Linked DNA regions of Homo sapiens. The protein of the gene in region 4 interacts with the protein of the main gene of each other region in a pairwise test. Each region holds a gene or a part of one and is shown on either strand. Other genes may lie near its edges.

Region 1 (3,500 bases), about 84 Mb from region 4:
TCTAGAGAAGTCAAATTTATAGAGACAGAAAGTAGAACGGTGGTTGCCAGGGGCTGGGAGGATACAGAAATGGGGAGTTGTTTAATGGGTACAGAGTTTATTTTTGCAAGATGAAAACGGTTCTGGTGATGGATGGTGATAACGGTTGTACAACATGAATGTGCTTATTGCCCCTGAACTGTATACTTAAAAATGGTTGAGATGGTAAATTTAATGTTTTATTTTACCACAATTTTTAAAAATAATGAAACCACTATTTTGCATAGGAGCCACAGTGATATGTCATAAAACTGTAGCAAGAACATATTCCCTCAAAAATCTTACGTAAAGAATTTGGCTGGGTGCAGTGGCTCATGCCTGTAATCCCAACACTTTGGGAGGCCGAGGCAGGTGGATCACTTGAGGTCAGGAGATCAAGACCAGCCTGGCCAACATGGTGAAACTCTGTCTCTACTAACAATACAAAAATTAGCCGGGCCTGGTGGTGCATGCCTGTAGTCCCAGCTACAAGGGAGGCTGAGGCACAAGAATCACTTGAACCTGGGAGGTGGTGGTTGTGGTGAGCCGAGACTGCGCCACTGCACTCCAGCCTGGGCAACAGAGTGAGACCCCATCTCAAAAAAAAAAAAGAATTAAATCAAGGTCTTAATGATCAAATTTAATACATCTCTGGTTGAAAAGACAGAGGCACAACACTTTACTAGGTTTGGTGAGCAAAAAGAAAACAACTTAGTAAAGAAGGATCCCCTGCACATACTACACTCATAGGCAGAAGGTGCTCCTACCTCCCCCATTCATCCTCCCTTTGGGTATCTCCTCACTGAGCCCTCCCTGGTTGCCTCTCCTATAGCTCAAGTTCATCACAGACTCCCCAGGGGCACAACCCAATTCCAAACCAGTTGGTGTTTCTAGAAAGACTCATTCTAATGCTATCCTCTTTCTCAAAACTCTGTGTTCCCACCTATATCCTATTCCCTGAATGCCCTAAAACCCATTCTCTCAACCAGACTTCTTCACAGGACTAGGTCCAAATTCCACCTAATCTGAAGCTCTAATCCACAGCACAATCTACCAGAGCCCCATATCTTCCAAAGAATTCTCTTCTACCAGCATGTTCTGGTCCTAACTCAGCTATGTATGCCCAGCCCTAAAATATTTCAGAGTGCATAAAAACTACCAGGATAGCTAGTTAAACTTGCAGATTTCCACCGCTCATCCCCAGAGATTTTCACTCAGTAGGCCTAATGTGGGGCCCTGGAATACGCACTTAAAACAAGCATACCAAGTCATTTGATGTAGCCTAGCACTAACCTAGGCTAGCCACGTGAGCCTAGGTAAGCCTGAACTAGCCTGAACTCCCAGCCAACTAATGCTTTGGATACAAACCCCATATTGTCTGTGCTAAAACTCATGAGAATAATCTGAGCTGCCCTACACCCTTCCCTCCACCGGGAGACTTCTGTGAATAATATGAATGTTCATTATATTGAACAGATTATATGTGTCTGTATCACAAGGTAGCTTAGGTTACATCTGTTTTCAAGGTTGGATCATATCTGCCCTGACTGATGACCTCACAGTTATGAGACTCTTTTAAAAATGGCAATTTCCTGAGGAAACAGTACTCTTCAGAGGCATGCTGCAGCCTGATGCAGTAACTAAAGGATTCCCTGCCTTACACCTAGTTTCAACTGACCTTTTAAAAGAAAAAGAAAAAAAAAGAAGAAAAAATGCTTTAAATGTATCCAATAATTTTGCACCTCTAACTTTCCACTGAACCTTTTAGAAAGTTATTATGAGCTTGAGGTCTGAGGGGCCTAAGAAGTGCCCAAACCACATTTGATGTCATTTCCCTGCAAAGGAAATGTGACACCTACGCCGAACTGCCAAGGTATTTTAGCTTATATACAGGGATAGATAAGCTTCTTAAAAATTACATTTCCAGTCTAATTATTTTGCAATTTCAAATTTATCACTGTCTGACATTATCCATGCCTATACAAATGGCTTAAAAAGAAAAATGGAGCCTAACAGGATATTTAGAACTGCCTGGAAGTTTAAAAAGTATGAATTTTAAATTCTGAGCAAATCAATATTCTGTTTTCCACATTAAACATATGGAAATTAATATGGACATGTCAACTATATTTGGTTGTAAGTGACTCATTTCAATACCTGGCATGTCTGAGGACTAATGCGAGAGCAATCTGGTAAGAGAAAAAAAGGTCATATGGATAATGCAATGAAATGGAAAGATCACTGGACTCTGGACCAGCCGTATTCCAAGGCTAGCTCTACCATGGCTTGGCTGTATGATCTGACTTTGTGGCCAAGGGCAATTATGAGACTGTTTTCAACAATGACAGGATACCTATCAACCTATGACCTCACAGAGACACTGGGAAGACAATATACATGAAATGACTTTTAAGCTGTGTTTCTTCAAAACGATACATTCCAAATTACCCTAGACTGTGTTCTTTTTGCAGTGCTAGTACGTGGTCTATACTGGAAAGTTCCTTTCATTTACTCAGTTGATTCACTGAGGAGCTGCTCTGCACAAGGCTCTATGTTAGGTACTGAGGAGGACTAGAGAAGAAAATGTTAAGGTGTAAACTGGTTGGAGAAACAAAGTACAGCCATGTGCCATGTAACAATGCTTTGGTCAACGACAGACTACACATATGATGGTGGTCCTATAAGCTTATAATACCGTATATTTACTGTACCTTTTCTTGTTTATGTATGTATACATACACAAATCTTTACCATTGTGTTGCAACTGCCTACAGTATTCAGTACAGTAACCTGCTGTACAGGTTTGTAGCCTAGGAACAACTGGCTATTCCATATAGCCTAGGTGTGTAGTAGGCTGTACCATCTAGGTTTGTGTAATTATACTCTGATGTTTGTACAAAGAAGTTGCCTAACATATTTCTAACATATTTCTCAGAATGTATCTCTGTCAGTAAGAGTCACATAACGGTGTACATAATGATTTCATTTCTAAGTGACAAAATGAGTGGTTCAAACAGTACTATGGATTGACCATTCTAGCTTTCCATCCTCTTGTCCATGAGAAAGTAAATGCACTGTAAACTGATCCTAAGAGACAGAATACATAAATCATGTAAACATTTGGTGTCTAACCCTGTTACAATAATTTTTCATTTTTGGCTTTAAAAACTGTTACCAGAACTCAGTGAAGGAAAAGACATGGAAAGAAAACATTTCTCAAAGAAGGTACCTATGAGGTACACTAAGTACTTCATCTAAACTCTCTTTGGGCCAGGCATGGTGGCTCATGCCAGTAATTCCAGCACTTTGGGAGGCCAGGGTGCATGGATCACTTAAGACGAGGAGTTCAAGTTTCAGCAACATGGCGAAACTGAAAAACAGAAAAAATCAGCCAGACATGGTGATGTGCACCTGTAGTCCCAGATGCTTTGGGGGCTGAGGTGAGAGGATCACTTGAGCCTGGGAGGCTGAGGCTGCAGTGA
Region 2 (3,500 bases), on a different chromosome or scaffold from region 4:
TTACTTCAAAAAGTTCTTAACTTTTACAAATTAATTAAATGTTTACAGATCAAATAAGATATCTATCTAGGTTTGGGTGGGGGAAATGGGTGGGATATAGAAGAAACATGAGTTTAATATTTCATCAGTTTTAAAAAGTATATACAGTAGTCTCCTTTTATCCGTGGTTTTGTTTTCCATGGTTTCAGTTGCCCACCACCAATTGCAACCCCAAAATACTAAGATATTTAGAGACAGAGAGAGAGGGAAAGAGAAAGCGAGACCATACCCACATAACTTTTATTACAGTATATTATTATAATTGTTCTCTTTTGTTATTAGTTATTGTTGTTAATCTCTTACTGTGCCTAGTTTATAAATTAAACTTTTTCATAGGTACATAAGCATTGGAAAAAACAGTATATGTAGGGTTTGCTACTATCCGCAATTTCAGGTGTCCTAGTGGGGGTTTCAGAATGTATCCCTGTAGATAAAGGAAGACTGCTGTATGCTCATTTCAATAGTTAGTTCTCTAACTATGTTTTTCTGAATATGTGATCTAAATTTGTTGACTCTATCACATTCGTAGATTTTAAGCATACTAAAATATTTGGCAGCTATTCCAAGGAGAATATAACAACAAACACTTCATATGACCATCAGACACAATTTTATCCCTATACCTGTATATTTACTGTTTCATAAACCTATTTCTAAAAACATTGTTATCTATAAAGAAATATTAAATTTCAACTCCAATTTACAACTGTGCCTAATATAGTTTGGCTGTAACAAAAAAAGAACATTAAAATTTGCATTTTATGAGTATTCATGACTTGTTTTCAAAATATAATCATACTTGAAGGTGTGAAGTGCACCTTCTATTTATTTTTACCACAAACAAGAAAAAAAACTACCAATATAACAAATGTTAAACACTTTTGAAAAAATCAATTTTTTCTCAAATTTTCATTATGATATTATATTAACCCAGAATATGTTAGGGCAATAAAATAAATGAGAAAAACGTCTGGATTTTGGTATATGCCTGTATGCTTAATAAGAGAACCTACAGGGTAGGATATAGAGACATAGTAAGAAAATACCTTTTATTCTCTCTCTACTAGGCCCTATCCCTGGAATAGCTGTAGACTTTTTTTTTTCAAATGGGATTGTTTTACGAACAGTGAAATAGACTCAGTTCAGTATCTTATATCTGCATTTGACACACAGAAAGAAAAATGGTTATCAAAAAATTACAATGGAATGACCCTCATTGCTAATAAGGAAAGACTTAAAAGCTATATTAGGAAACAGAAATGGCTGAGACTGACCTCTTTCTCCCTAAAAAGCTTATTCAAGTTCTTTTTAAATAAACCTGTAGGGTTGAATAGCTGATATAACTGATTATCATTTCGTACTCGTCCCAGCTGAAGTGCTCTATAAAACAGATCATGAGACGAAGCTTCCTTCACTGCTAATAGCTTATTGGGAAGTACAATTCCAGGGAAGTGAAAGTGAAGGAAAAGGGAAGTGATACAAGGAGAAGTAGGAAAAAATTTCAGCTACTGTCTTTAGGAATACAACTACAGAATTTACATAATCTTTTTAAATTTCCTGTTTTGAACCATATTGTATTTAGATACCTAGTAATACTTTCTGTAAGGAAATTATCTTTATTCAATTCTATGACTTATAACTTTAATTTTAAATATATTTAAAATGACACATAATAAAGGCAAAAATTGCTTTCCAAACCACACTCTTCTAGAATCATCTAGGGCCCTTGTTAAAAATGCAGGTTTGTAGGGCCTTGTGAGTGTCTTGTTAAGTATGTTCCTTGGAAACCACTGCCCGACATCACCAATTGTTTGTAAACCCTGTGGTATAATTTAATATAGAGTATACCAATGTACTTGCTGTCAGTGTGAATAATTTTTTTTAAAAAAGATATGCTCATTTTGAAGTCCATCAAATGTTGGCAAATGTTGAGGGTTATCTGAAGACACTGGGAAGTAATCCATGGTGATCGTTAAAATAGCAAGGTTTCATCAATTATCTGGTATCTATGCTTTGTCAAAGTTAGAAATGTAGAGATACATTTCTAAATTAAAACTTTTATGTGGGAAGAAAAATTGAAATTCAAGGCTGGTTGGTCTTTGGTATACCCAAAGAACAAAGAGGAGGTTGGAGGTGTTCTGAAAAAGAGAAATGATACACGCTGCTCTTTGAGAAAGTTCATTGGCACTAGAAAGGTTCTGGGGAGCTAGTAAGCTTCAATTGGTGAGTGACAGTGGTGGGCAAAATTAGTCCTAGAGCTGCAGCAAGTTTTTTCAGCAGTTACAGAAAAAATTGGTCCCAGGTTACAACAGGCAGCCTCAGCATGCGGACTTGTAGAAAATTACACTTTTGGAGCAATGTGATGTTTCTTGAATGCTTTTCCTCCCAGGCTTCTTGATTGTTTTAGTTGGGTATAACAAGAATGACCCAATTTGTGTGATCAACTTTCACAGCCTTAAACATTCAAAGCAGCAGAAGCGCACTTTCTCTTTTGCCCACTGCTTTTACACTTGAAGATATTTTGGGTAGAACCATTGTTTTGCTGCATTATTGAACAATGTCACTTAGCCTCAAATAATGGAATTAATACCTTCACTCAACAACTCACACCAGGAGGATGAAGGAGAGAGATAGTAGCCAAAAAGATAAAAGAAGAAACTAAAAAAGAACTTTGACTTAAGAGGAAAAAAAGGTTCAACTTAAGCACACACCCGTGTTCCAAAATGAAATCAAGCCCAGAACTCGTATTTAAATAAAAATAGCATAGACGTTTCAAAAATGTGAATATTCTCTACTTCTCTACCTCAGACAGGGGAGTGTGTACATAGTGTAGATAGTATATTTCACTAAGAGAATTACCATGTATTTTATTGATGCACTTAAAAATGAAGGCGATAGACATGAATACCTTGTTAAAAAGCAAGGTAAAGATATATTTCATATGTTCAATTTTCTATTATCAATTCCTAGTCTGCTCATAATGCCATTTTGGGGTGGGGAGCAAAGGGCATCTGATTCAAAATCAAACTAATCTCAATTTTTGATAAAATCTAAGGAATTTTATTTTTAAAACATTGAATTAAAGCAAACTTTGGATACTCTGATTTCTCTTGAGGTCATAAATCCTCTGCCTTTTTAAGAGATCTATGTGGAGAGGAACAACTCTGGGTCTTAAACGAATTATTGAGGTCTTGTTTTGGAAAGGCTAGATATTTTGTTAAAAAATATAAGATTTCAAAAAACCTAAAACTTTGGACAATGTTATTTAATCATCAAAAGCAAAACAATATGCATATTTCAGAAATAACACTATATTTTCAGTCTTACTATTATGCATAAGAAAGAACAATATAAAAATAATGTAATGATTACATTTATTGTTTACATACTCTGAGGAGTATTTAATTGCATCCTAGTAAGTATATTCTGTCACATGAGAAGCCATAGAAATTGGCATGTTC
Region 3 (3,500 bases), on a different chromosome or scaffold from region 4:
GAATAACCTCCTTTAGGTGTGAATACAAAAGACACTTCCCCCAGCAAGCCTTCCTTGACCAGCCTTAGACTGGGTTAAGTGCCCCAGTTGAGTACTTCAATGAAGCCCTCGAGAAAGCTGGGTTTCAGATAATTTGTTCCATAAAGGCAGCAACAATTTCCTTCTTGGCCACCTCTACCTTCTTAACGTCTCACATAGAATACAGAATATGAATGAGGTCATCTTCCAGGTTACCCAGAATCATGACCTACAAAGGAAGTACTGCTGTATCTCAGCTCCTTGGAGCAAGCTATGGGAGAGTTTTCTGGCTATATCCAGGCATAGCTTCAGGCCTGAGTAGTCCTAATAATCCTACGGACCTAGCAAAAATCTTCATTTCCTTACCCCATGAGCAAGAAATTAGCAAGCATGCTATCCTACAAAGGCTAAGGCAGAAGGGACACAAGAAAACTTCGATGGAATAATTGTTCTAAGCATTAAAAATCTGCCCACAGTCCCACTTGCTTTGACCCCTTTTTATCAAAATGATGCCAGCACTGCAGGACTGTTGAATGTCATCGATCTACAATAGACACAGGTCTCTAGGGTTGATCACCATGAACTCATTAACATCACAAAAAAATCTTTATTAAATTGTTCCACGGAAGAGTCTTGAAATGGTCTGAATATCATACTAAACAAATTAGAAAAGGCCCTGACATCCAGAGCTTTACAATTTGGAATCATAATTTATGTCAAAAGATAATAATAAGTTAACAGAGCTGCACAGAAAAATAGCAAAGTTGACAAGCCTTGCAACTTGAATACAGCTGTGAAAAACTCTGAAAAAAGATTTTTCAGAGCTCTGTAGGAATGTAATTCTCTACATCAAGCAATCTAAGAGTAAATTAAATTTTTACAAGCTTCTTGCTAAAAGAAGCCTAAGCTCTTTGCTGACACAATGCCCTACAGTAAAGCCGTAAAGCCACTCTGTAATGCTAATTTCACACTGAAACAACTATGTGGTAAATTGATTCTAGAGCTCTGAAGAGAACCAACAGAAATAGCAATGTTTTCCTCCATGATAATGCACTTGACATATTTGTAAATTAATCTTTCTACAAGATCTCCAAACAACTTGATCTTTATCATAGTCTGTTTTCCCCTTTTGACCTCATTGCATCTCAGAGGTTTTTCTCCAGGAAGATGCCCTACACAGATGCCTCAGGATCAAAATTGCCAAAATTGCTGCTGAGTCAGAGATGTTTTTAACGTTTTGACAACCAACACATAACTGCATGCTAAATAGTTAACACCCTTCCTGATGGTTTTGCAATACTATACTTATATTGTAGCTCTATCACACTGAAATTATAGGCTCTTGTGAAATGACACTAGCAATAATAATGCATTTTATAGCAGTACTCACTCAAGGACCTTTAAACAAGTGTTAACATTTATGTATTGAATATTATTACACTAAGTTCCACTCCCTCCCATAACACATAAATGGAAAACTGGAAAACCGTGATTTCCCTAGTGTAACAGTTAGCTCTGAGGGATATTTTGACTGTCACATCAAACATAAAATATTGATGAAGTAGCTAAGAAAAATAGATTCCACTTCTCTCTTTAGCAAGGAATTAAATATTAAAACTACACTATTCCTTATAAGTATATAAGAATATTACTTGAATCAAGTGATTAATAATTTAACTAGCATATAAAAAACTATAGGAATAAACTTCAAAACAAAGGAGAACTTTTTAAAATTTGCAAAATTAAAAGAAACAATTATATAATTATATATACAAAGATATTTTACATATACAAAGATATTTTATATATAAATAAATGTAATTATAATTTTTGTCATATATCAGGTACAGGAGGTACTTTTAGAACTCTGAGAGTTAAGCTAATCAAAATTAATACAAAATTAACACAGATTCCCAGCTGAAAAATCTCAACTGTGTAATAACAAAACATGGTCAGCAAAAGGATAAATAGAAAAGACTATTGAGGGACTGGTGTAGAAAGTCAACATTTGTTAGTGTTCAGACAACATTGTTCAAGACAGAAGGGCTCCTATCCCAGAGGTGGGCCCCTCCAATTCCTATAGGATGTAAAGCCAAGAGAGAATATGGAAACCCTGGGCTGTCCTCATTGATGGCATTTGCCCATGGACTGACTAAATGGAGTCATGGTAATCGGGAATGCTTGGCAGTTGTATATCACAATATAATTGTTCAACACATATTGGCCTTTGTTTTATGCATCTATTTTATTTTGATTTGGATAACCTAAGGTTTTTCTGATAGACAAACCTGAGATAATGTGTATGTATTGATCAGACCTAGACTAAACCCTTGTTTGGGTAGCCAACTGGTCTTCCTTGGCAACACTTTTACAAACACCCTCAACAAACTGCAAAAATATTTATGGCTTAGCCATAATTTTAGCTTTCCTCACAAATTGCAAACATGTAAATAAAATGTAAATACAAAATCATCATGATGAATTTTTAATAGTGTATCATAATTTATATAACCAAATAAGTGTGGTCCCATTCAAAATGGTCATCTTTATAAATCTTTCATAGTATAATTTTAATTATACTTCCATTGCTCAAAGCACTTATATTTCTCTTCATTAAGCACTGTCTTTAGGCTGACAGGGTGAGGTGGCTTACGCCTGTAATCCCAGCACTTTGGGAGACTGAGTGGGAGGATAACTTGAGGCCAGGAGCTCCAAGAGCAGCCTGGGCAACATAGTGAGATACTGTCTCTATATAACTTAAAAAAAAAAAAAGTTAGCCAGGCATGGTGGTACACACCTGTACACCTGAAGACCCAGCTACTCGTGAGGCAAGATGGAAGGCTCACTTGAGCCCAGGAGGTGGAGGTTGCAGTGAGTTATGATTGTGTCACTGCACTCTAGCCTGGGCAACAGAGTGAGACTCTGTCTTTTAAAAACAAACAAACAAAAGAATTGTCTTTAAAGTTTGCAATGCATTTTTTTTTAATGAAAACACCTAAAATTAGGTAGCACTTGGCTGTTAACAAAGGAAATTATGATGAAAAATCTTTATATTTTCAGAGTGAATTTGATTTTGTGATACAGTCAAAAGTCACTTGGAAGCAAGTCCAAGAGACCAGTCTGGGTAATATAATTTTTAATCTAAAGCAAGCTATGAATATAAAACAATAACAATAAAATAATGTGGCTAATATATACTTATGAGAAGAAATTTATGTATTATTTAGAAAGGCAATTTCATAATAAGAGACCCAAAATTATTTTGATCAAAGGCAAATGTTTAGAATAGGAGTGTGGTTTTTATTAGATAGCTATTTTGAACCACCATACCTATTCTGATATATAAATTCAGGTGTATTTGTTTGTTTTAAAATCTCTCATTACTTTGTGTTTAATAATTACAAAAGTATCTCAAATTATCTTACTGTTAAACTCGAGACTTAGACTATGTGATTCTTTGCTGAATTTCCACCTTAGATCCT
Region 4 (4,128 bases):
TCCCCCAGCACCATTCTCCCTACCCGCAAGCTTCACCCTGTTACCTGGTTTATGAGATAAAGAATCTTGGTGAGGATGTGGGCACATTTCCGAGGGTTGATGGGAGTTTCATTAAATACACGGGCCTAAGAAGAAATGACCAAAGATGTTACCTTCTAGCCTAGTTCATTTCCCTTCAAGTATATTCAATGTCTGAGAAGTCTCAGGGTAAACTGACTTGTCTAAACAGGGCTTTCTGGGTATGCAACAAGCTTATTTTCATAAGGAAAGGGTTTGTTTTTCTTTAATCAACTACTAATTATTCTTAGACTCTCGTGTAAATATTAGTTAGGGATGTGCTAACCTATTGACTAGCAGATACTTAGCAACCATCTGCTAACTGGAAACAGAAACAATGAACGACAACAATAAAGAAAGAAGCGGCTGGACGCAGTAGCTCACACCTGTAATCCTAGCACTTTGGGAGGCCGAGGCGGGTGGATCACCTGAGGTCAGTTCGAGACCAGCCTGGCCAACATGGTGAAACCCCGTCTGTACTAAAAATACAAAACTTAGCCAGGCATGGTGGTGGGCACCTGTAATCTCAGCTACTCGGGAGGCCGAGGCAGGAGAATTGCTGGAACCCAGGAGGCGGAGGTTGCAGCAAGCCAAGATCATGCCATTGCACTCCACCCCAGGCTGACACCAGCAAGTCTCCATCTCAAAAAAAAAAAGAGAAGTGGCCGGGCGCGGTGGCTCACGCTTATAATCCCAGCACTTTGGGAGGCCGAGGCGGGAGGATCAAGAGGTCAGGATTCACACCATTCTCCTGCCTGGCCAACATCGTGAAACCTCATCTCTACTAAAAATATAAAAATCAGCCAGGCATAGTGGCGTGCGCCTGTAGTCCCGGCTACTTGGGAGGCTGAGACAGAAAAATTGCTTGAACCCAGGAGGCAGAGGTTGCAGTTGAGCCGAGATCGTGCCACTGCACTCCAGCCTGAGCAACAGAGTGAGACGCCTTCTAAAAAAAAATACATATATATATATATATAAAAAATATATATAATAAAAATAAACAAGTCATGCAAAATCTCTACCTGCATAATGGCCACAGTCTAGCTTAGGTGATAGTTTTAAACCAGTTTCCTTAGCTTTGGAATTAACTTTAAATAGAGAAATTTTTTAAATGTTTAAATAGAGAGGCCAGGCGCGGTGGCTCAAGCCTGTAATCCCAGCACTTTGGGAGGCCGAGGCGGGTGGATCACGAGGTCAGGAGATCAAGACCGTCCTGGCTAACGCGGTGAAACCCCGTCTCTACTAAAAATACAAAAAATTAGCCGGGTGTGGTGGCGGGCGTCTGTAGTCCCAGCTACTTGGGAGGCTGAGGCAGGAGAATGGCGTGAACCTGGAAGGCGGAGCTTGCAGTGAGCCGAGATCACGCCACTGCACTCCAGCCTGAGCGACAGAGCAAGACTCTGTCTCAGAAAAAAAAAAAAAAAAAAAAAAAAAAAGAAGTAAGCATAACTAACTCTCTCCAGAAACAAAGTTTTCCTGTCTTCCAGAAAACTTCCAGGCACAAGTTTTCTCCCGTGTTGCTCTTTAAAACAACACTTTGAATGTGTTGGTATTTCAGTTGCATTGGTGGTGAATATTTATGATGGAAGCTAGAGGGGAGCAAATGTCACTTGCCTCCTGGAGTACCGCACTCTTCTCAAGGTGCTGGAATGGGTTGGAGCCTCCACCTACGGTCAAGGACAATGGAGAAGGTAGGTTGTGACTCTGAACTTCAAAACTCTCCCAGACATAGGTAAAGGGAAGATGTCCCTTCCTAGGAAATCTAGTAAAGTTCAAACTCCTCAGGAATGGCAATCAAGCCTCTACAATCTGTCTAGGGATCCTACTAGTCTCCTGCAAGCAGGTGGGCTCCACTCTACCCCAAACCACTCACAATCTCCCAGCAGCCCTGGTACAGTCCTGTGCTTCTCATGGTGCCATGTCTTGTGTTCATTTATATAACTTGTAATTAACTAAGTCCCTATGTGCCAGGGACCACCATCTCGTTGTAACTAGTTCCTTCATAGCAGATGACACATTTGCAAATAATTACACGTGTGATTATCTGGTTGATGTCTGCCTCCTCCATCGTGGGTGCAACCATTCTAATATTCCTAGCTCAGGCACTGAGTGTCCCACTTGCTCTGTTGCAGTATCCAGGACACCGTACAGTACCTGGCATACAGTAACTGCTCAATATACTTTGCTGAATAAATGAATGATGGGGTCAGAGTTCCCAGTCACAGGACGCTGGCTCCGCAGGTTACACCCCAGTTTGGCCAGCACCAACGTAGCCCCAGCGAATCCCAAGAGGTTGGACGAAGAAAGTAACAAGAGAACATTCGGCATGGTCCCCTCCTTTGACAGATGGGTAAATTGAGGCCTGGGGGGGGGGGTGTTTGTCGCGCCCAAGGTCACCCAGAAAATTGCAGTCCGAGCTTACAAGAGTGAGACAGCCGCGCATGCTCGGGCTCTCCGAGGCCTGCCACTGACTAGCTGTGGACCCTGGCACAAGCCCCTGCCCCTCACTGGGCCTCAGCCTCCGGGTCAGGACAGAGAACCAGAAGGAAAGCTCGGCGGGTGGGGGTCCGGCCTCCCTCAGACCCAGGCCTGGCCCCCTCACCTGACTCCTCATCCTTCTTGTCGAATTTCTTCAACATAGTGGAGTCGGTGGGGCGCAATGCAGCAACGCAATGCTCGACGGGCGCGGCACGGAGTAGCGGTGCCACAGTGGTTCTACAGGGACCACTTCCGGGCCCCGACTGGCCACGTCGCCCAGCGCTCTGCGCAGGCGCATTCCGCGCTCTGCGCCTGCGCTCTTTCCGGTAGCCACAGCCTCGTCTAATGTTAACCTTAGCTCCGCCGGAGCGGGAGTGGGGAAAGCCAGACGGAGGGGCAAGGGCTAGGTGCAGGGGGGTACTGACTAGCATCCCAACTCTGCTCCCTACGCTTCTTTCCGTATACCAAGGGAGGAGGAGGAGCCCCTGCCTCGTTGCGTTGTGGCGTGAGTCTTTGTGGCTTTCGGGTGTGAGGTTGGTGGCACACACTGGCCCGCAGTAAACACCCAATTGATGTGACCGGTCTATGACTGTTATTGCCACCTTCCGAAGGAGCCTTGCCAGCCACTCACTCCTCGCTTTCAGATTCTTTCCCCTGCCTGATTTCCTCCTCAGCTCGAATCGCCATCTAACACTTTATTTTTACTTTCTGGCTTTTATTTGTTTATTTATTTCTCGTTCTGCTGCCCAGGCTGTGGTGCAGTTGTGCGATCCTGGCTCACTGCAGCCTACAGTTCCTGGGCTCAAGCGATCCTCCCACCTCAGCCTCCCGAGTAGAGCTGGGCGCACCACCCCCGACTAATTTTTTAATTTTTGTAGAGACGAGGTCTCACTATGATGTTGCCCAGTCTGGTCTTGAACTCGTGGCCTCAAGCGATCCTCCTTTCTCGACCTTCCAAAGTGCTGGGATTACAGCGGTGAGCCACTGCACCCGGCCACTTTCTTGCTCTTTTGTTTTTTTTTTTGTTATTTGCTTGTTTGTTTGTCTTTTATTCACTGCAGTGGATAATGTTGGCACATAGTAGTTGCTCAGTGAGTTCTCGTTGAATGAATGCGTGCAATTGCATTTTTAATTTATATCTGCCGGGCCCTATCTCGTCTGCTCCTGATGCAAATTGCCTTGTACATTATCAACCTTAAGAGATCTAACTAAACAGCATAGAACTTCTACGTTATTTTGTAAATACTTTGGATATTTATGGAGTGCCAACTAGATGCGCTGCCTACGCGGGGAGGTGGGGGGAAGGGCGTGGGAAGGAACGGAAAGGGGAAAATGACACATCACCCAGGGTTTATCTTCCTGGGGACCTATGCAGGACACCCTGAGGCTAAGGTAAGCACAGTGCATGCCAGTGAGCCAGATTGCATTGGCAATGGCAAAGTCGTGATGGCCAAGCGCTGCGACACGGCCCCAGCTTGCCTGGGGAGGGGAAGCCCGCAGGCCTGTGGGCAGGAGAAGGAGTGGGCTGTGGAGAGGAGAGGCAGGAGGCTGAGGCAGAGGCCCCAGGTGAAAAGGGTGACCGCAAAGCTGGAG

The links. Proteins that work in one complex are often made in the same cells at the same time.
Region 1: the proteins of COPG1 (region 4) and SACM1L interact in binary tests that used the Homo sapiens proteins (3 or more experiments, as listed by UniProt).
Region 2: the proteins of COPG1 (region 4) and SNCA interact in a two-hybrid assay, tested with the Homo sapiens proteins (one large-scale study listed by BioGRID).
Region 3: the proteins of COPG1 (region 4) and CFTR interact in binary tests that used the Homo sapiens proteins (3 or more experiments, as listed by UniProt).

Annotation. Positions count from the first base shown.
Region 1 is NC_000003.12:45,692,396-45,695,895, reverse strand, and holds part of SACM1L (phosphatidylinositol-3-phosphatase SAC1), read right to left. Parts: intron 1-3,500.
Region 2 is NC_000004.12:89,732,662-89,736,161, forward strand, and holds part of SNCA (alpha-synuclein), read right to left. Parts: intron 1-3,500. UniProt on the Homo sapiens protein: Neuronal protein that plays several roles in synaptic activity such as regulation of synaptic vesicle trafficking and subsequent neurotransmitter release.
Region 3 is NC_000007.14:117,483,025-117,486,524, reverse strand, and holds part of CFTR (cystic fibrosis transmembrane conductance regulator), read right to left. Parts: intron 1-3,500. UniProt on the Homo sapiens protein: Epithelial ion channel that plays an important role in the regulation of epithelial ion and water transport and fluid homeostasis. Mediates the transport of chloride ions across the cell membrane.
Region 4 is NC_000003.12:129,248,278-129,252,405, reverse strand, and holds the start of COPG1 (coatomer subunit gamma-1), read right to left. Parts: upstream 2,801-4,128; 5' UTR 2,697-2,800; coding exon 2,660-2,696; intron 1,725-2,659; coding exon 1,672-1,724; intron 126-1,671; coding exon 45-125; intron 1-44. UniProt on the Homo sapiens protein: The coatomer is a cytosolic protein complex that binds to dilysine motifs and reversibly associates with Golgi non-clathrin-coated vesicles, which further mediate biosynthetic protein transport from the ER, via the Golgi up to the trans Golgi network.